Homo sapiens: one gene and its partners. The protein of the gene in region 2 binds, or shares a complex with, the protein of the main gene of each other region. Each region holds a gene or a part of one and is shown on either strand. Other genes may lie near its edges. The genes, in order: GPKOW, CWC27, BUD13, SNRNP40 and SNW1.

Evidence for each region.
Region 1: CWC27 (region 2) and GPKOW share a complex: the UniProt entries of both Homo sapiens proteins name them as parts of the minor spliceosome.
Region 3: CWC27 (region 2) and BUD13 share a complex: the UniProt entries of both Homo sapiens proteins name them as parts of the activated spliceosome.
Region 4: CWC27 (region 2) and SNRNP40 share a complex: the UniProt entries of both Homo sapiens proteins name them as parts of the minor spliceosome.
Region 5: CWC27 (region 2) and SNW1 share a complex: the UniProt entries of both Homo sapiens proteins name them as parts of the minor spliceosome.

Annotation. Positions count from the first base shown.
Region 1 is NC_000023.11:49,117,137-49,121,083, reverse strand, and holds part of GPKOW (G-patch domain and KOW motifs-containing protein), read left to right. Parts: intron 1-1,269; coding exon 1,270-1,379; intron 1,380-3,273; coding exon 3,274-3,487; intron 3,488-3,921; coding exon 3,922-3,947. UniProt on the Homo sapiens protein: RNA-binding protein involved in pre-mRNA splicing. As a component of the minor spliceosome, involved in the splicing of U12-type introns in pre-mRNAs.
Region 2 is NC_000005.10:64,771,814-64,775,760, reverse strand, and holds part of CWC27 (spliceosome-associated protein CWC27 homolog), read right to left. Parts: intron 1,071-3,947; coding exon 974-1,070; intron 1-973. UniProt on the Homo sapiens protein: As part of the spliceosome, plays a role in pre-mRNA splicing. Probable inactive PPIase with no peptidyl-prolyl cis-trans isomerase activity. As a component of the minor spliceosome, involved in the splicing of U12-type introns in pre-mRNAs.
Region 3 is NC_000011.10:116,762,988-116,766,934, reverse strand, and holds part of BUD13 (BUD13 homolog), read left to right. Parts: intron 1-1,488; coding exon 1,489-1,573; intron 1,574-3,668; coding exon 3,669-3,947. UniProt on the Homo sapiens protein: Involved in pre-mRNA splicing as component of the activated spliceosome. As a component of the minor spliceosome, involved in the splicing of U12-type introns in pre-mRNAs.
Region 4 is NC_000001.11:31,282,879-31,286,825, reverse strand, and holds part of SNRNP40 (U5 small nuclear ribonucleoprotein 40 kDa protein), read left to right. Parts: intron 1-3,947. UniProt on the Homo sapiens protein: Required for pre-mRNA splicing as component of the activated spliceosome. Component of the U5 small nuclear ribonucleoprotein (snRNP) complex and the U4/U6-U5 tri-snRNP complex, building blocks of the spliceosome.
Region 5 is NC_000014.9:77,730,079-77,734,025, reverse strand, and holds part of SNW1 (SNW domain-containing protein 1), read left to right. Parts: intron 1-1,424; coding exon 1,425-1,541; intron 1,542-2,896; coding exon 2,897-3,038; intron 3,039-3,947. UniProt on the Homo sapiens protein: Involved in pre-mRNA splicing as component of the spliceosome. As a component of the minor spliceosome, involved in the splicing of U12-type introns in pre-mRNAs.

The DNA of each region.
Region 1 (3,947 bases), on a different chromosome or scaffold from region 2:
GCTTTGGCCTCATTCTTCTAATTTTTCCCTCTATAAACCTCCTCCTGCAGCTTTCTACATATCAGGTGACCAAAAATTCCATCCATCCTTCCTCTCACTCAGCATAAAAACCTTGGAGTCAGCCAGGGGCGGTGGCTCACGCCTGTAATCCCAACACTTTGAGAGGCTGAGGCCAGCGGATCACCTGAGGTCAGGAGTTCAAGACCAGCCTGGCCAACATGGCGAAACCCCATCACTAGTAAAAATACAAAAATTAGCTGGGCATGGTGGCACGTGCCTGTAATCACAGCTACTCGGGAGGCTGAGGCAGGAGAATCGCTTGAACCCAGGAGACTGAGGTTGCAGTGAGCTGAGATCATGCAACTGCACTCCAGCCTGGGCAACACAGCAAGACTTCATCTCAAGAAAAAAAAAAAAGAAAACCTTGGAGTCATCCTCAATTCCTCTCTTTATTTCGTGCCCCATACAATATGCCAGCACAATCCTATCATCTTTTTTCAAAATGACACCCAGAACTGACCACTTCTCACCACCACCAATACCACTGCAAAGGGCTGAGCCACCAGCATCTCTCATCTGGACTATTAGAGTAATTTCCTCACTGGTCCCTCTTGTGGCTCCCACCTGGCTCAAGGTCCTCTGACTCCTGCCCAGCTCTCCTGATTTGGTCTCTTCCCCACCCTTCTCTGCTGTCTACTCTCACTCTCTCCATTTCAGTCATGGTGACTTTCATGATACCCCTCACACATACCAAGCCTTGTCCGGCCTCAGGGCCTTTGCTGTTACTATGCTTTCAGCTTGGGACACTTTCTTCTCATATCCTCATGGCTCCCTCTGCTGTCATCTCCTGATCTCTGCTTAAATGTCAACCCAGTGGCACTCCCTCTCCATCCCTCTGCATCTTCTTACCCTGTTTTCTTGTTCTTTACATCACCACCTGACATATCATGTTTTCTGGGTTTTATTTATAGTATGTCTCCACAACTAGATCAGAAGCTCTGCAGGGGTAGGGGTTTTTGTCTGTTTGGTTCACAGCTTCATCCCCAGTACCTAGAACAGTACTTGCCATAGACAAGGTGCTTTATATTTGTTGAAGGACTGAACATGGAGGAGTACAGTGAGGGATGGAAAGAGGAAATCAAAACTCACCCTTGAGCTGATTGGAAAAGACGCGTAGCAGGTCTCCCAGTGGGGGGCAGCAAGTGCACTTCAAATAGAAGACCCAGTGTAAGCAAAGCCTGACCCTCCTTCCTCTACCTGAACCTGTAGGTGCCAGAGGAGGCTAATTATGAGGCGGTCCCCGTGGAGGCCTATGGGCTGGCCATGCTGCGGGGCATGGGCTGGAAACCTGGCGAGGGCATCGGCCGCACCTTCAATCAGTGAGTTCTGGGATAGGGTCGAGGGGACAGACAGATCATCAGGCTGCAATCAAGATCCCCAGGGTCACTGCCAAACCAGAACCACCTAGGCAGGGAGGGAGGATACATTATCGCCCTAACTAATTCAGCAGCCCCTTCCACTACTGTTTTAAACTCCCATTTGCCCTTTGAAACTCTAATAGAATCCCATTTATATAAAGTTTGCCTCTAGGGACATCAATTTCCTCATCTGAAAAATGGGGGTAATAGTACTGACTTCATAGGTCTGTTGTGAGAGTTAAATGAAATTATACACATAGGCCAGGTAGTGGCTCATGCCTGTAATCCCAGCACTTTCGGAGACTGAGGCAGGAGGATCACTTAACTCCAGGAGTTTGAGACTGGCCTGGGCAACATAGGGAGGCCCCATCTCTACAAAAGATTAATTAATTTTAAGAAAAGAAATTAGGGCCGGGTGTGGTGGCTCACACATATAATCCCAGCACTTTGGGAGGCTGAGGTGGGTGGATCACGAGGTCAGGAGATCGAGACCATCCTGGCTAACACGGTGAAAGCCCATCTCTACTAAAAAAAAAAATACAAAAAATTAGCCGGGCATGGTGGCGGGTGCCTGTAGTCCCAGCTACTCAGGAGGCTGAGGCAGGAGAATGGCGTGAACCTGGGAGGCGGAGCTTGCAGTGAGCCGAAATTGCACCACTGCATTCCAGCCTGGGTGACAGTGAGACTCCGTCTCAAAAAAAAAAAAAAAAAGGAAAAGGAAAAGAAATTATATACATAAAGCACATACAGTAGGCCCTGACCCCAAGAAAGCGTAGACTAAACATTTGCTATTGTCATGCAGACTTGCAACCCTTTCTTCACAATTGCAAACTCAATAATTCTGAAAACCAAACATTTTTTCATAACCCATTGGCAGCCAAATATGACCTGAATTGGCGTTTTTTTTTTTTTTTTTTTTTTTTTTTTGAGATGGAGTCTCTGTCTGTCACCCAGGCTGGGATGCAGTGGCGCAATCTCGGCTCGCTGCGACCTCTACCTCCTGAGTTCAAGTGATTGTCCTGCCTCAGCCTCCTGAGTAGCTGGGATTACAGGCATGCACCAGCATGCCTGGTTAATTTTTGTATTTTTAGTAGAGATGGGGTTTCCCCATGTTGACCAGGCTGGTCTTGAACTCCTGACCTTAGGTGATCTACCAACCTCGGTCTCCCAAAGTGCTGGGATTACAGGCATGAGCCACCATGCCCAACCATGTTGAGTATTTATAATCCGGTTTCTCCTGCTCGGTGTGAATGTTCATATGATTTCCCCTGTAGAAATAGTATATTTGGTTACAGCGATCTGCCTCTGATCTCACTGTAGATATTATGTAATAGATGGTATATGCAGCATGTTATTAGGTTGAACCAAATGAAATTGCTGTTTCTGTAGGTCAAAAACAGTCCTAATATGAGATCAGAAAGGGCAACCTTGAAAATATTGGTGGGGGCTGGACACGGTGGCTCACACCTGTAATCTCAGCACTTTGGGAGGCCAAAGAGGACGGATCACCTGAGGTCAGGAGTTCAAGACCGGCCTGACCAACATGGTGAAACCCTGTCTCTACTAAAAATACAAAAATTAGCCGGGCATGGTGGCATGCGCCTGTAACCCCAGCAACTCGGGAGGCTGAGGCAGGAGAATCCCTTGAACCTGGGAGGTGGAGGTTGCATTGAGTCGAGATCGAGCCATTGTACTCCAGCCTGGATGACAAGAGCAAAACTCCATCTCCAAAAAAAAAGAAAAGAAAAGAAAATGTCAATGGGGCGGGTGGGGCGGGTTTGGGCAGGAAGAGGAAGTAAATAAGGTGTTGAAGACTGTTGCATCCTCTCCAACAAACCCATATTCCTCCCTGCAGAGTAGTGAAGCCCCGTGTCAACTCACTGAGGCCCAAGGGGTTAGGGCTGGGTGCCAACCTGACCGAGGCCCAGGCCTTGACCCCCACTGGCCCCTCCCGCATGCCAAGACCAGATGAGGAGCAAGAGAAAGATAAGGAAGATCAGCCTCAAGGGCTGGTGCCTGGAGGAGCTGTGGTGGTTCTTTCTGGCCCTCACCGAGGCCTCTATGGGAAGGTAAGGAACCAAGATATCCCGGGAGCCCAAAACAGGCAGCAGGGAAGGTTGATCCGAGGGTCAGATGGAGGAATAATTGGATTTGAGGTAGAAAGGCTGGGACTCCTAGTCTTTTAGGTCTGCTTGGCCCACTGCCTCACTCAGTAACCCAGGACCACTTGCTGGCCTTTGTGAGCCTCAGTTCCCAGCTAAAAGGAAGAGAATGCCATATGCCACAAGTCCCTGAAGATTAAATGCTTAAAGGATCCAAGGAAGCCCCACAGTCAGCTGAGGGAGACACAGGAACCAGACCTGGTCCCACTTCTCAGGGGTCAGAGTCTGGTTGGGGAGACAGAGGAAGCAGGCCTCTTAGAGGTAAGGGGTTGACATCTTGGTCCTAGGAATGTGGGTGGAGTCCACAACCCCTACCTGACTTCTTCCCCTCAACACTTTAGGTGGAAGGCCTTGATCCTGACAATGT
Region 2 (3,947 bases):
AGAGAATACTCTGCAGGGAAAAACACTTCAGTGGATGTATAATTCTGCAGCATTTTAAAAAAAGAAAAATAGTTACTTTATGACTCAAATCTAAAAAAACTAGAGACATTGATAATAATATCACTGGATGCTAGCTGGAAGGCTGTGTGGAGAAACTAGAATTTTGAACAGACATTTAAAAATGGGTAGACTTAAACAGTAAAAAAAGGGAAGAAAAAGCATACCAAAAGAAGGGGAACTAGTATGAGGACATGTATGAAAGTGGAAACGGAAAGGAAATGCTTAGGAAATAATGTCCAACTAAAACCATGTGGTTAGTGCAATGAGCTAGAAAGTTGGATAGCTAGGAAGCCAAGCTGCCTGAGGATTCAAATACCATATAAACAAGGAAGAGAGAAAAGAAATTAAGGATGAAAGACAGGAAGGGGAGCAGGCAAGAGGCAATTACAGTCATACAGGTGAAAGGCAGACTGGGGAAGAAATTGGTAAATTTGGTTTTACACTGGTTTTGTTATAGCTAACAGTGGAAGGCTCCAGTTGAAAAGTCCACTAGGCAATTAGATATGTAAATTAGTACTAGGAAGAGAAGAAATGACTGAAGTTCTTAATGTGGTAGTCATTTGGACTGAAGTAACAACTAGAGAGTGATGACAATAGAGAACTAGAGGCAATCTTAGGGAATACCCAAATTTAGAGAATGAAAGGAAGAAGCGTAAGATAGCAAAGAAGACCAAAGAGGATCACAGTATTATTTGTTGAGATAAACTGCTCTGTTGAAAGTATTCAAATTTATTTGGGATAACATTTATCTCTTATCTCTACTTCCGGACACCCAGCTCAATACCATATCCTCATAGCAACACCTGTCATTCATGACCACTATTTAACACTAGTCTTCAATGTTGTGAAGCAGACACTGCAGTTTATTTTTAAATTAACAAGAATTTCTCCAGTAGAATAAAAGTCAACATACCTTCCAAACAAAGTTGGATAAAATTTCTGCAAGCTTTAGGAGCTTCTTTGGACCACAACTCTATGTCAATATCTCCAGCTGTAGTTTTCAATAAAACCTGTAGAAAGAATATTACATTTTATTAAATTATTATTTTGCTTAATAATCAGTTGAATAACTATTTGACTTGTAGCAATCACTAGTGAGTTTTCAATTTTAAAAGAAATATTAAAAATTGTGTTTGGCTTTTGTTGATATACTCAACAAAATGTCAAATATTCACTACAACTCATTGTACATTTAGATCTTTCAAAATACCATTTCAGAAAAAGTTTGGGATTTAAGAAAACAATAGCATATATCTTTTTTAATCACAGAAAAAAACTTCATTCATTTAGAAAACGGTAATATCTAAAGTGAGTTCACTTGAGGCTAGGAGTTCAAGAACAGCTTCGGCAACACAGACAGACCCTGTCTCTAAGAAAATTTGTTTTAATTAGCCAGGCATGGTGGTGTTCCATGCTATTTGGGAGGCCGAGTTGAGAGGATCACTTGAGCCTGGGAATCTGAAGTAATAGTGAGCTATGATCATGCCACTATATTCCAGCCTGGATGACAGAGCAAGACCCTGTCTCAAAATAAAATAAAACATGACAAAACCCCAATAATGCAAATTTGTTATAATTGAGTTTCCCATTGCATCAATTCCAATAAAACTGTGTAGCAAATTAAGAAATTAAAGAATAATGAACCCATTAAATTGTGACATTATAGGACAATTTTATAATTACCCTTTTTAATTACCTTTTACTCTCTCTGCTCATTTAACATCATGCTATTCCTAATTTACAAAGGAACATTCTTAATCTAATTCTGGCTTGTGATTTACTAAAATACTATGTCTTAAAATCACCTTCTATAGTAAATAGAATCCCGTGATAGCCTTTCCACCAGCTCATAACAGCAGATACTCCTTGGTAGAACCAGAAACTTTGCAACTAGAACCCCTCCCTGCTGGGCCCACAGGAAACAGTTTATAACTGTCTTATTTATAACCACAAATAACCAAAAAGAATGTTAGGCTCTAAATTTGAACATTGTGGCATAGCTGGAAACCAATTTCTCCAGTATTACTTCTTCTTTTTTCTCCCCTAGTATACCAAAGTAGATCAGTGTCAATAATTTGTGACCATCACAATCTTTTAGAATGCTCTTTCAAGTAAAGAGTATGCAATATAACTGTTCAAAAACATGAGGCTGTTTCTCATAGGTCAGTATCATCAATGCTAAGTCACATTTCACCACCCTAAAAAGAAACCCTGTACTCATTAGCAGTCACTCCCTATTTACCCCTACTCCTACTCTCTGGCAGCCACTAATCTACTTTCTGTCTGTGTAGATTTGCCTATTAAACATTTCATATAAACAGAATCATACAATATGTGGCCTTTTGTGTCTGGCTTCTTTTACTTAGCATAATGTTGCTTTCAAATTATATAGGGGTCTTTCAGTTCTACACATCTAGTTTTTAAATGTCTTGAAAATCACAATGACTTTATACTCTTACTGGTAAATATTTCAAGACACAATATATATTTAAGGCAAAGTTCACCATTGAAAACAATAAATAGAAATCCATATTTCCAATGGTCTTCATAATAATTTCTGATTTTTTTGACAGACTTCCCATGCTGAGGTATCAGCTCTATCATGTTCTTATGATTTGCTTGTTTATATTATTAATAATATCTTCAATAAGAAATTTGTGATGGCTGGTTTAGTTAATCTAAATACTATGGTCTATAAATCTATTTGGCTAGTCGTTATGAAAAATTACACCACAATGCCAAAAAAGTGCCTTTTTTTTTTTTTGAGACAGAGTCTCACCCCGTTGCGCAGGCTGGAGTGCAACGGCACGATCTCGGCTCACTGCAACCTCTGCTTCCCGGGTTCAAGCAATTCTCCTGCCTCAGCCTCCCGAGTAGCTGGGACTACAGGCACCCACCGCCACACCCAGCTAATTTTTTGTATCTTTAGTAGAGACGGGGTTTCACCATGTTGGCCAGGCTGGTCTCGAGCTCCTGATCTCATGATCCGCCCGCCTCAGCCTCCCAAAGTGCTGGGATTACAGGCATGAGCCACTGCGCCTGGACTTTTTTTTTTTTTTTTTTTTTTTTTTTTTTTGAGACAGAGTCTCACTGTCTCCCAGACCCGAGTGCAGTGGTGTGATCTCAGTTCACTGCAACCTCCACTTCCTTGGTTCAAGCAATTCCCCTGCCTTAGCCTCCTGAGTAGCTGGGATTACAGGCTCACAACATCATGCCCGGCTACTTTTTTTGCATTTTTTTTAGTAGAGACAGGGTTTCACCCTGTTGGCCAGATTGGTCTTGAACTCCTGACCTCAGGCAATCTGCCATAGTCTCCCAAAGTGCTGGGATTATAGGCATGAGCCACTGCACCCAGTCATCATCTTTTTATATATATTAAATAATGAATTTAAACAAAGGAAAAAAATACAAATATATATAGATTTTCTCCCCACAGCTCATGGATGGTTTTGCACACCCACTGAAGTATGCACTCACTGGTTTAGAAACCACTGCTCTAATGAACACACTAATTACATCATCCCTCCCTCCACAGGCTCTGGAATCAGGATGCCCAAATTCAAATACTGGCCCTTCCATTTACTAGCTTTGTTACCTTGCGCACACTATCTGACATCTCTGTCACTTAATTTCCTAATCTAAAAACGGGATAATAATATCTTTTAGGATTTCTGTGAGGACAAAATGAGCTGTAATACATAGACTGCTTAGAAAAGTAAATGACAAATAATAAGTGCTCAAAAAATGATAGTCATTATTACGTGGTTTTTTGGCCACAGGCAACTTACACCTAGTAAAAAGAATGCATATATAATCGGGCCACTTTGCTCACCAGGGTTTCTTAATCTTTTCATTAATAAGCTACTGAATTAATAAAGAAGGTATAT
Region 3 (3,947 bases), on a different chromosome or scaffold from region 2:
ATTACAGGAATGAGCCACCGCACCTGGCCATTTTCTTTTATAATATTGTCTTGCTTTTATGATGGCCCAAAAACCTAAACAAAGGAGGCTTTAGTGCCACTGCTCTCTGCATTGGTTAAAACAGATCTTGATTACTGAATTCATTTTTGTAACTGCAAGATCACCACCACCACCAGTAATAATGGTAAAACGATTATGATGATTACGATAGCAGTGGCAGCACAGGAATAATTAATAGGTGTCATTTATTGGGCATTTATCATGTACCAAGCATGGCTAAGCTTACGTGAATTATCTCATTCAATCCTTATAGCAATCCTTTGAATCCCACTTTTACAAATGAGGAAATTGAGGCTTAGAATAATTTACCAAAGGTTACACAAATGCTAAGTGGCCGAGCTGGGGTTTAGATCTTAATTCATCTTGCCCGAAACCTGTGCTTTTAACGCTCAGTGAGAGATCTCAAAACTGGGTTATATGAAGAATGATGGTAGGATTTTGGGAGAAGTAGAGGGCTATTATGACCTGGATTTAAATTCCAGTTCTGCCACTTGTTAGCTTGTGACATTGAGAAAGTTACTGAACTTCTCCGAATCAGTTTGCTATTCAGTAGTGTGGAGCCTTTCTTTACAGGATTATTGTGAGAATCGAGTTAGATTATATGAGTAAACCACAAAACACAGTACCTTGCACATAGTTGCTACTCTGTAACTAGGATTTATTATGCCAGCAATCTTGAAAGTTTGTCATGTGGACTTACATCACAGGTCAGAACTAGAATGAATTCAAAGAAGTTATAGGAAGGCAGATACGGTACTAGTAAAACTAAGAACTTTCTAACATTTTTGAAAAATGCAGTGGACTGTGTTGTAAGATAATGAGTTCCTTGTCAGGAAGGGATTGGGCGAGTGACCACTTATTAGGAATACTATAGAGAAGATTCTGATTTGTTCAGAAGTTTAGAAGATATGAAATGTGGTTTTAGCTCTTAAAGATTAATGATTCTGTGTACATCTCAGTGGCTCTTTTTGGTTGTATTCAAGAAAACCTATCACTGTGACTACCTACAACAAGAAAGGATTCATAGAAACCCAAAGTCCTTGATTAGTGCTAGGCATGATGGGGGGAGCCACCTATGTTTCCACTGTTAATGTAGAAGTAAAAGTGTAAAAGGAATTTAGTTGTTAGTTTACAAGTGGCTGTTGTGTACCTAGCAGGTTAATAAAAAGGTTTGTAATGAAAAAAATTAACCTTTGCAGGGTAATTGATTAATTAGAGAAGGATCTACAATTAAACCAATACAGTGACAATCAGATGTTTATGGAGCAAACATAACTGAAGACCCCTACTTACTTCTTCATGACCATTTTGGATATATGTACGCCCTTGTGTTAGGAATCGGAATGGTTGTAACTTCAGGTTCTTGAGACAGTGCTTCTTGGCTGGATCCTGTGGATTTCCTAAGATAGGAAATCTTTACTCTCACAGGTGGCAGAGTTTGTGGATGAGCGGCCAGAAGAGGTAAAGCAGATGGAGGCCTTTCGTTCCAGTGCCAAATGGAAGCTTCTGGGAGGTGAGTTCCAACAATAGATAAATCTAAATTTCCATTAGTAGGGGAGATCTTTTTTCCTTTTCTATACTTTTCTTTAGAGGAATGCATAGTTTGTTTTAGCATGTCATTGATCCTGAAAAATAAAGCAGGAAAAAGGAAGTTGGACTTCTTCAGAGGTAGTAAGACATAGGAACTTATAGACCAGATATTCCTCTTTCTCTTATATTTTGGCATTAGGATTACTGAGGTTGGTGACTAATTTGGAGGCCTTTGAGCACCCATTCCTCTTTGACTCAGAATAGGAGAGCACTTGGTGTATAGGCAAGACTTTGGGAGGAGTTTACAAGAAACAGGAGCAGAATTTGGGGACTTTAGCTACCACTATCCTCTTCCACAATGAAGCAACTCATTTCTGGGGGGTCAAGGACCAGTGTATTTTGTTCTGTTTGTGTTAGTAAATTTCTCTCTTCTTTCCTTAAGTATTGGTGTTTTATAGTGCATTACCCTCCACTTGCCCACTTTGGACTCTTCCTAAGCTAATAATCTTAATTTAACTCTCTTTAAAAAAATTTGAGTCCTTGAGAATTGGATAAAAAGCATTTGTTTGTCACATCTGTTTGAGCATAGACTAGTCTTATTTGCCATGATATTCCCCTATCTAGCACAAGGAGCTACCTTTAATAAATATTTGTAGAATTGTTTAATTGCTAGTAGGTATTTGATTTTTGTAGCCTAATCAGAATTCTTTTCCAAAGAGAATCTTTTGGTCTCCATGTCTGTTTGTCTAGGAAGACACACAGACACACACATACACACGGTGCCTTTTCTTGTGTATCTGAATGTTTAGAAGGTCAGTCACACACACACACAGTCACACTCACACTCACTCACTCCTTTTCTTCTGCCTTGCTTTCACTCCCCCATCCCAATTTGTTATTGGAAGTACGCTTACCAATCTCTGACCCTTGCTTCCTTCAGATTTACTGTTAGGCCCCCCACAGACATCATACTTTTCTCTGTGGAGTGGATTCCAATCAGATAGGGCTGTTCCCCAAAGTAAAGGAGTTGACTTGGTTTAATTCATCCATTTAACAAGTATTCATCAGTTCCTACCCAGCTTTTATTTGTATTTGGGCTGTGGAGCTCAATGACAAGAAATAGAGGTAGAGGAAGAACTGGATTTTGAAACTGTTCCAGTTGCTATAGATATTTCATTCTGTGGTGCCTTTGAATATGGAAGGTCTCAAACTATGTATTTTAACTTTAAAGCTTTACATATTTTAAAGATTGCACATGGACTCTGGAGTCAAATAGAGCTGGATTTAAATATTCCTCTACCACTTATTAGCAATATGACTTTGGCAAGTTAATCTTTCTGAGTATCAACTTCCTCATCTATAAATGAAATGACAGTATTTATGTCCTAGGCTTGTTGTGAGAATTGAATCAGGTAATCTCTATGAAACACTGGCACACAGTAGGTGATTGGTAATTACTTGCTCCTTTCTTTTTTATGGTGATTTTTCCCCTCTCTAAGAAAGAGCACAGTGAAATGGATTAAATAGTTAACAGCATTTTATTTTGATATTCACCGTTTTAGTCAATTTACCTATTGAAAGAAGAGTGAGTACAAACTATAAAGTATCTAGGCAAAATATCAGTAGGAGCCACTAGCTGGGAACTCTGCACAAATGAGGTTTTAGAAAGAACATTGGACTGGGAGTTAGAAGACTTGGATTCTAGCCTGTGTCTTCATTTTAGGAGCTGTGACCTTAGGTAAGAAATCACTCAGCTCCTCAGCTGAAAACAGAGGCTGTGGCCTCTGTTTTCATGCTGTAATACAAGGGTACCTGCCCTGCTTACCTTAAAGGGTATAATATGAAAAATGTGCTGAAAATGCTTTGCAAATTTATGACTTGGTAGGCGGAGGGGTTATTCTTAAGATATTCATGAGTGGTGGTTTGCTGCCCCTAAGCAAGAAAACTGTGCAGGCCTTTTGGGCTTTCTGAGCAGTTCTGAGGTATGTGCTACTGGAGCATCTTTTGAAACTGGGTGTGGGGGTGGACAGAGGGACAGAGCATTTGTGGGAATCTGACTCTTTGTTATTTGTGTTTAGGCCACAACGAAGACCTACCCTCAAACAGACATTTTCGTCACGATACCCCGGATTCATCTCCTAGGAGGGTCCGTCATGGTACCCCAGATCCATCTCCTAGGAAGGACCGTCATGACACCCCGGATCCATCTCCTAGGAGGGCCCGTCATGACACCCCGGATCCTTCTCCCCTCAGAGGGGCTCGTCATGACTCAGACACATCTCCTCCCAGGAGGATCCGTCATGACTCCTCAGACACTTCACCCCCAAGGAGGGCCCGTCATGATTCTCCAGATCCTT
Region 4 (3,947 bases), on a different chromosome or scaffold from region 2:
GTCAGAGCACAAGTGTGGTAAGGAGAGCATCCACACTGGGCAGGGCAGTACATTGTAGGGAGTAGTCAGAGAGTGAGGAAGGCATCCATACAACACAGGGTAGGTAACCAGTGTGGGGAATTTGAGGGTGAGGGAGGGGCAGCAGCCCAACAGTGCCCTAATGGGGTGAAAGGGTCGCCTGTACGTGAAGCAGTACGGGGAGAATGTGGATGTCAAAGCCTGAACTGAGGGCATCCACACAGGGTAGAAATGATTTGGTGTAGGGAGTCTGAGACTGAGCAAGATGATGACTGCATGCTTGGAGAAGTGCAGACTGGAAAAGAGCCGTAGCAGAGTGATGAGGGTGTTCACACAGAGGAATGACCCAAGTTGGTTAAGGAAGAGTCACACATGGCTTCAACCAAGAATGGGAATCACAATTCAAGTAGGGAAGGGTGGAAGAGAATATGGGAAACTGGTTGCATGCAGGAAGCATAATCAAATAAGTGAATATATTGAATTTAATGGGAGGCTGATTTCTCTGTCCAAGAACAGAGTTACCAGTACAAAAGAGAAGACTAAAATGAATCTTGTGTGAGGTATAAGTGTGAACTCACAATATTCAATATAGAAACATATAGAAAAAAATAGACATAAATGTGTGAGTGTGTGTGTGTGTGTACCTAAATGTACATATATTGCCTGACTGTCCACTGAAAAGGTTTAGGAGCAACAAGACCCCAATAGCAATAGCACCCCTTACTGCACAGGTACTGTTTTCCATTAAAAGGAACCAGGGCTCCTATTTCAGCCCAGGGGCAGTGAAAGTACAAGATAAGCCTTGTACTTGTCAAGGCTTATTTTGTCAAAAGAACATCCTAACTAAATTATCAAATCGACCTAATTAGTAATGGGACAAGACAAAATCATGAACCATTTGCTAGGATACAACAAAGATGCAGCATCATTTCTGTGATATTCCTACCAAAGATGTATAACTTAAATCTAATCAAGAGGAAACATAAGACAAACCTAAATTGGGGATGATGACCTGTAACTTTCAGAAGTGTTGAGTTCATAAAACTCAAGGAAAGTTTGAGAGAGTCTTGCAGACTGGAGTCTAAATTTAACATATGATTCCAGACTGAATCCTTGTGCAATAAGACATTTGGGATAACTGGTAAAACTTGAGTGGGATTTGAGGATAAAATGGTGATAGTGTATCTGTATTTCTTGATTTTGATGGTTATGTTGAGATGATGTAGGAGAACATCTTTGTAGGACAGACACTATTTAGGAGTGATAAGGGGCCAGGTGCAGTGGCTTATGCCTGTAATCCTAGCACTTTGGGAGGCCTAGGCAGGTGGATCACTTGAGGTCGGGAGTTTGAAACCAGCCTGGCCAACTTGAAGAAACCCTGTCTCTACTAAAAATACAAAAAAGCCGGGCATGGTGGCAGATGCCTGTAATACCAGCTACTCAGGAGGCTGAGGAAGAATTGCTTGAACCCGGGAGGTGGAGGTTGCAGTGAGCGGAGATCACGCCACTGCACTCCAGAATGAGCAACAGACAGAGTGAGACTCCCATCTCAAAAAAAAAAAAAAGGTGATAAGGCATTGGGTAAGCAACTTACTCTCAAATGATTTAGACCAAAAAAAGTGTTCTTTTTACTTCCAAGTTTTCTATAAATTTATGATTGCTTCAAAGTAAAATAATTATTAAAAGTGGTAGTTATCTGGAACTAAAATTCTAAATTATTTTAAACAAACTTTGACTACCATGACTTTTAGGAGAAAGACAAAGATAGATTTGACCTGAGTGAAGTATCTATTGAGACAAAGATTATAGTACAGTTTATAAAATATATAGGATCTAAATTATTAAGGCCTTGAATTCCAGGTTAAGAAGTTTGGACTTGATTCTGTAACCACAGGAGTTGGGGGAGTAGGAGATGTTGGGCATGTAGGAGAGGAGTGAAGCGTTCTTTTTAGACCATTTATCTGAGTAATGAACTAATTTTTAGTTCGTATTTACATGAACAAAGAAGAAACTACTTTTCATCCTAAACCATGAGAATTGGGAGGAAGAGGCATCTTGGCACAGATCCTACTCAGACTCTCCTTGTTGACTACAGGATTGAAGTTAAGCCTATGACCTTCCCTAAAGTTCCATGGCTGATTCCTTTCTTTTTGATGCCAGCCCTTTAAAACTTGGAACAGTCATCCCAAAGTCTCTTTCTTCTGAATGAAACGACCCATACTTTTAAATCATTTACTTGTGGTTCATCTTCTCAAGTGTGTCATTCATTTATTGAAACATCTCTGAGCCCTCTCTGTGTTATCCACGCTTTAAAAAAGTAGAGCTATAAGGGTTTGTTTGTTTAAGAGATGGGGTCTTGGCCGGGTGCAGTGGCTCACGCCTGTAATCCCACCACTTTGGGAGGCCAAGGTGGGTGGATCACCTGAGGTCAGGAGTTCGAGACCAGCCTGGCCAACATGGTGAAACCCCCGTCTCTTCTAAAAATAGAAAAATTAGCTGGGCGTGGTGGCGCATGCCTGTAATCCCAGCTATCCAGGAGGCTAAAGCAGGAGAATTGCTGGAACACGGAAGCAGAGGTTGCAGTGAGCCGAGATGCCGCCACTCTCACCCAGGCTGGAGTACAGATCCGCAATCACGGCTCACTGCAGCCTCAACCTCTCTGGCCCAAGCGATCCTCCCATCTCAGCCTCCCAAGTAGCTGGGACTATAGGCATATACCACCACACCCAACTTTTTGTTTTTATTTTGTAGAGATGAGGAATCACCATGTTGCTCAGGCTGGTCGCTAACTCTGGGCTAAAGCCATCCTCCTGGCCTCGGCCTCCGAAAGTGCTGGGGTTACAGGCATGAGCCACCATACCTGGCCCTCTAAGAATTTTATAGTTTTAGCTCTTACATTTAGGTCCTTGATCCATGTTGAATTAATTTTTGTGTATCATGTTAGGCAGGGGCTTACCTTCATTCTTTGGCATGTGGTTAGCCAGTTGTCTTAGCACAATTTGTTGAGAAGACTACTTTTTCCTTCTATATGGACCATAGTTACTTGCTTCTTTGCATGCCTTATATTTTGTTGAAAACTAGGCATTTAAATATTATAGCGTGGTGACTCTGGAAATTAGGTCCCCAGAGCTGCTTATTGTAGTTGTTTGTTTAGTGACTTTCTGTGGGTTGGGGTAAGGTGAGAGTGGTTGGTTGGTTGGTTTTTGAGACGAAGTCTCGCTCTGTAGCCCAGGCTGGAGTGCAGTAGTGCGATCTTGGCTCACTGCAACCTCCACTCCCCGGGTTCAAGTGATTCTTGCACCTCAGCTTCCTGAGTAGCTGGGGTTACAGGGGCACACCACCATGACCAGCTAATTTTTGTATTTTTAGTAGAAACAAGGTTTTACCATGTTAGCCACGCTGGTCTTGAACTCCTGACCTCAAGTGATCCATCCACCTCGGCCTCCCAAAATGCTGGGATTACAGGTGTAAGCCACCATGCCCGGCCTGTTTAGTGAATTTTTGAACTAATTTTGTAAAGTTTGTATTCTTTGTCCTGTGTGACCACTGAATTCTTTTTTTCGTTAGCTTAGTGGTCAGCTAGTGAATGACACAAGTTTCCTAAATTACCTACAACAACAAGAACAAAAATTCTCCCAGTCTTTGCAGATTGTCTTTTTGTATGTTGGAGCCTGCCTTCAACTCCTTGCCATGCAGTTTACATCTCTCCTTAGCTTTCACTTCCTGCTTGTGCAGAGCCTGAAGGTGAACCAGAGAGCTTACGGCCTTCTCAGATCTTTTCTAAGTATGTGCCCAGCCCTGGACATGCAAGTGGTCTAGATTGCCAGGAATGGGCCAGGCGTGGTGGCTCATGCCTGTAATCTTAGCACTTTGGGAGGGTGAGGCAGACAGATCACTTGAGGCCAGGAGTTTGAGACCAGCCTGGTCAA
Region 5 (3,947 bases), on a different chromosome or scaffold from region 2:
CTGGTCTGATTTGAGTTGATTGGTATTTTGTAACTGGATGGTATCTTGAGCTGGTTCTATAATGCTTCATTTTATTATGAGACCATGGACTAAAAGTCAACATTTGAGAGACTAGTCAGATATCTGGAAAATAAAGCTAAGCCTGAAAGTTACATAGACATTCAAGTACAGTTCTTGAGTTATTGAAATGGGATGCAAAGTTTTAGAATGTAGAAATTCAGTTGTTTAGCAAACATTTTTTTTTCTTTTTTCTTTGGTTTTTTTTTTTTTTTTTTTTTTTTTTGAGACGGTCTCGCTCTGTTGCCCAGGCTGGAGTACAGTGGTATGATCATGGCTCACTGCAGCCTCAACCTCCCAGGCTCAGGCGATCCTCCCACCTCAGCCTCCCGAGTAGTTGGGACCACAAGTGTGCCCCACCATGCCTGGCTACTTTTTTGTATTTTTGGTAGAGACGGGGTTTCACCATGTTGCCAGGCTGGTCTTGAACTCCTGGGCTCAAGCAATCCACCTGCCTTGGCCTCCCAAAGTGTTGGGATTACAGGCTTGAGCTACTGCACCCAGCCTTTTTTTTCTATTTACTAAAACTTCAGGATTCTAAGAATATAACAGATCATTAAGACAGTACAGCAGATTTAACTTCCTATAGATGCTAAGATTATAGTGATTCTACCTTTGTTTGACTGTTAAATTTACTTGAGGAGCAACTGTTGAACTGTTTGACAGTGATTTCCTTTTATTAAAATCGACAATTATTAACACAAATATCTATTTTTCCAGAGCTTGGGTTCTGAAATCCTGCTGAGTTTAAATCCTAATCGCCCACTTACTAACTGTATGACCTTGGGGATGTTACCAAAGCATCAGTGAAATGGACACAATAATGTTAGAAGCTTTATAGAGTTATCGTGAAGGTTAAATGAGACCATAGGTGTAAGTGCTTGATCTTCTACATAAAGCACTCATTGATAGCTGCTGTTGTTTTGCATCATTGTGAAGAAAGATGCAAGGAAAAAGAACCTCCAGTTAAGTGGTTCTCAAAATGTGGGCATATTTAAATTTAATTTTAGCCAGGCTCGATGGCTCATGCCTGTAATCCCAGCACTTTGGGAGGCCAAGGGCGGATCACTCAAGGTCAGGAATTCAAAACCATCCTGGCCAACATGGTGAAACTCCGTCTCTACTAAAAATAGAAAAACTAGCCGAGTGTGTGGCGCACGCCTATGGTCCCAGCTACTCGGGAGGCTGAGGTAGGAGACTCGCTTGAACCCAGGAGGCAGAGGTTGCAGTGAGCCGAGATGGCACCCCTGCCCTCCAGCCAGGGTGACAGAGCAAGACTCCAGCTCGAAAAAAATAAAATTAATTTAACTTCAGACGATTAATTGAAGCACTTCTGTGACTGGGTTTTCTGTCTGCTTTCACTCTAGGGTTATACAATTCCATTAGACAAACGTCTGGCTGCTGATGGAAGAGGACTACAGACAGTACACATAAATGAAAATTTCGCCAAATTGGCAGAAGCCCTCTACATTGCTGATCGGAAGGTTGGTTTGTTATAATTTGTTTAATGCTCTTGTTACTTTTAAAATCCATTCTTGGTTACCTAAGGTACTGATAATTTAACTATAGTACCGAGCACCCAAAGAGAGTCTCACCCATGGTACGTGTGTCAGAAATGGCAGCTGCTAGTTGGCAGCTCTCTGCATGCTCCCAGCTTTTGTAGATGTGTACATACACCCCACAGTGGTGATCCGGCTCCCTCACAACATGTCAGAATAATGGTTTCCTAGGATGATCCCATTTTTTGAAGATTGCTAGGTTTCATAATTTTTGATTTCAAATTTTCCTCTATTTTAGATGTAGATGTCCCCCAAAAGGGCAGTTGCAGGAAAAGGCAGATAAACATTCTAATGAATTGAATAGTACATAAAATGGCGTTCATAGCATTGGCCATCTATTAATGTTACATAATGTATTAAATATTATGGAATTAGGCTGGGCACAATGGCTCATGTGTATAATCCCAGCATTTTGGGAGGCCAAGACTGGTGGATTCCTTGAGGTTGAGAGTTCAAGACCAGCCTGACCAATGTGGTGAAACTCCATCTCTACTAAAAATACAAACATTAGCTGGATGTGGCATGCACCTGTAATCCTAGCTACTTGGGAGGCTGAGGCAGGAGAATCTCTCGAACCCAGGAGGTGGAGGTTGCAGTGAGCCAAGAACGCACCACTGCACTTCAGCCTGGGCAGCAGAGTAAGACACTTCATCTCAAAAAATATATGTAAATATAAATATTATGGAATTAATATGTGATATTGAAGTTCACATGCATCATAGCATGTGTTTGGAACATAAAAAAAATGTCTTTTGTATCACAGTGAGTACCCTTATAAAAATTATCTAGCAGATGTAAGTTAAGATTTTATCTTGAGTTGACTTGATTAACTTTGAAAGTGTTATTAATTTTGAAAATGTTATTTTTTTGAGATGGATCTCACTATGTTGCCTAGGCTGGTCCCAAGCTCCTGAGCTCAAGCAGTCCTTCCACCCTGGCCTCCCAAAGTGCTAGGATTGCAGGAGAGAGCCACTATGCCTGGCTTTAATTTTGTTCTTTAGATTGTTTCTGAGAAAGCATTAGTGAAATACTTGACTTACAAGATTAATTGGGGTCACGATAGTTTCAATCACTAAAATATTCCCAGAGAAAAAAGCTGACCTTGCAGTGTCTTCCAGGCAGGATATCTTTTAGTGGACAAGACTCTTTGTTTTAATTAGCAATAACAAATCTGAATTCTGTATAATTGCTCTTACCAGCCAGATGTTAGGGAGTTGGATGATAGCCATAAATATTTATCCCATGATAGTGTCCTGTTTAACATGTGACTTTACCAACAGGCTCGTGAAGCTGTGGAAATGCGTGCCCAAGTAGAGAGAAAAATGGCTCAGAAAGAAAAGGAAAAACATGAAGAGAAACTTAGAGAAATGGCCCAGAAAGCCAGGGAGAGAAGAGCTGGGATCAAAACTCATGTGGAAAAAGGTATGACATTCTCATTACTGAATTGAATTTTGCTTGGTGAACAAAATATATCTTATTTTAGAAAATCTTTTTCCTACTGCATATAAAGTAGGTACATATAAACAAAATTTAGATACATCAGATATAGTGTAGAAATGGAGAGTAATCTCTGCCTTAGTAAGCTGAAGCAACAGGAGATAAGAAAAAAGTGGGTCTTCAGTTTGGGACTGTACCAGAAATTTTTAAACTTCTGAGCAGTGTACTTTTCAAAATTGCATTATTACTCAAATGATAGGCTTGATTTTCTCTTATCTTAATCTCAAAACTTAAGAGAAATTAGGTATCTAACAGAATAATTCAGCTCCCTCATATGGTGAAGTAATCCAGAGTTTTTCTATCTTGTAGGCTCCAATGCATTTCTCATCATTAAATCTGCCAGTATTTTCTCTCTGACTTTACTTAGTGGTCTACATTGGTGTATTAATTCAATTAGAGTGGGAAGTCGAGTCCTAAGTATAATTCAAGAAATTTTGTGAGGGTGGTTATTTTTTTTTCATTACTAAATTCTTACCTGGTACATTTATTCATTCTTTCATTTATTTAGTTCATATTGAGCATCTGCTGTGTGCAAGGTTCTCTTTTAGACACAAAGTGTTTTTGCTAGACAGTGGGTAGGGGGATGGGATATAACAGTCAACATTCTGGTGAGTGTAGACAGACAGAAATTAATCATGTAGTATAGTAAAAGGTAATAATTGCTGTGGAGGAAAAATAATACAGGGAAAGAGGATATAAAATTGCCAGAAGGTGAGAGTGGTCAAATAGCCCTCACTTCTGAGATGGTGCTGTTAGCAGAAATACTTGAAGAAAGTAAGGAAGCAAACCATGTGGATTTCTGGGGGAAGAGCATCCCACACAGAAGGGCCAGCA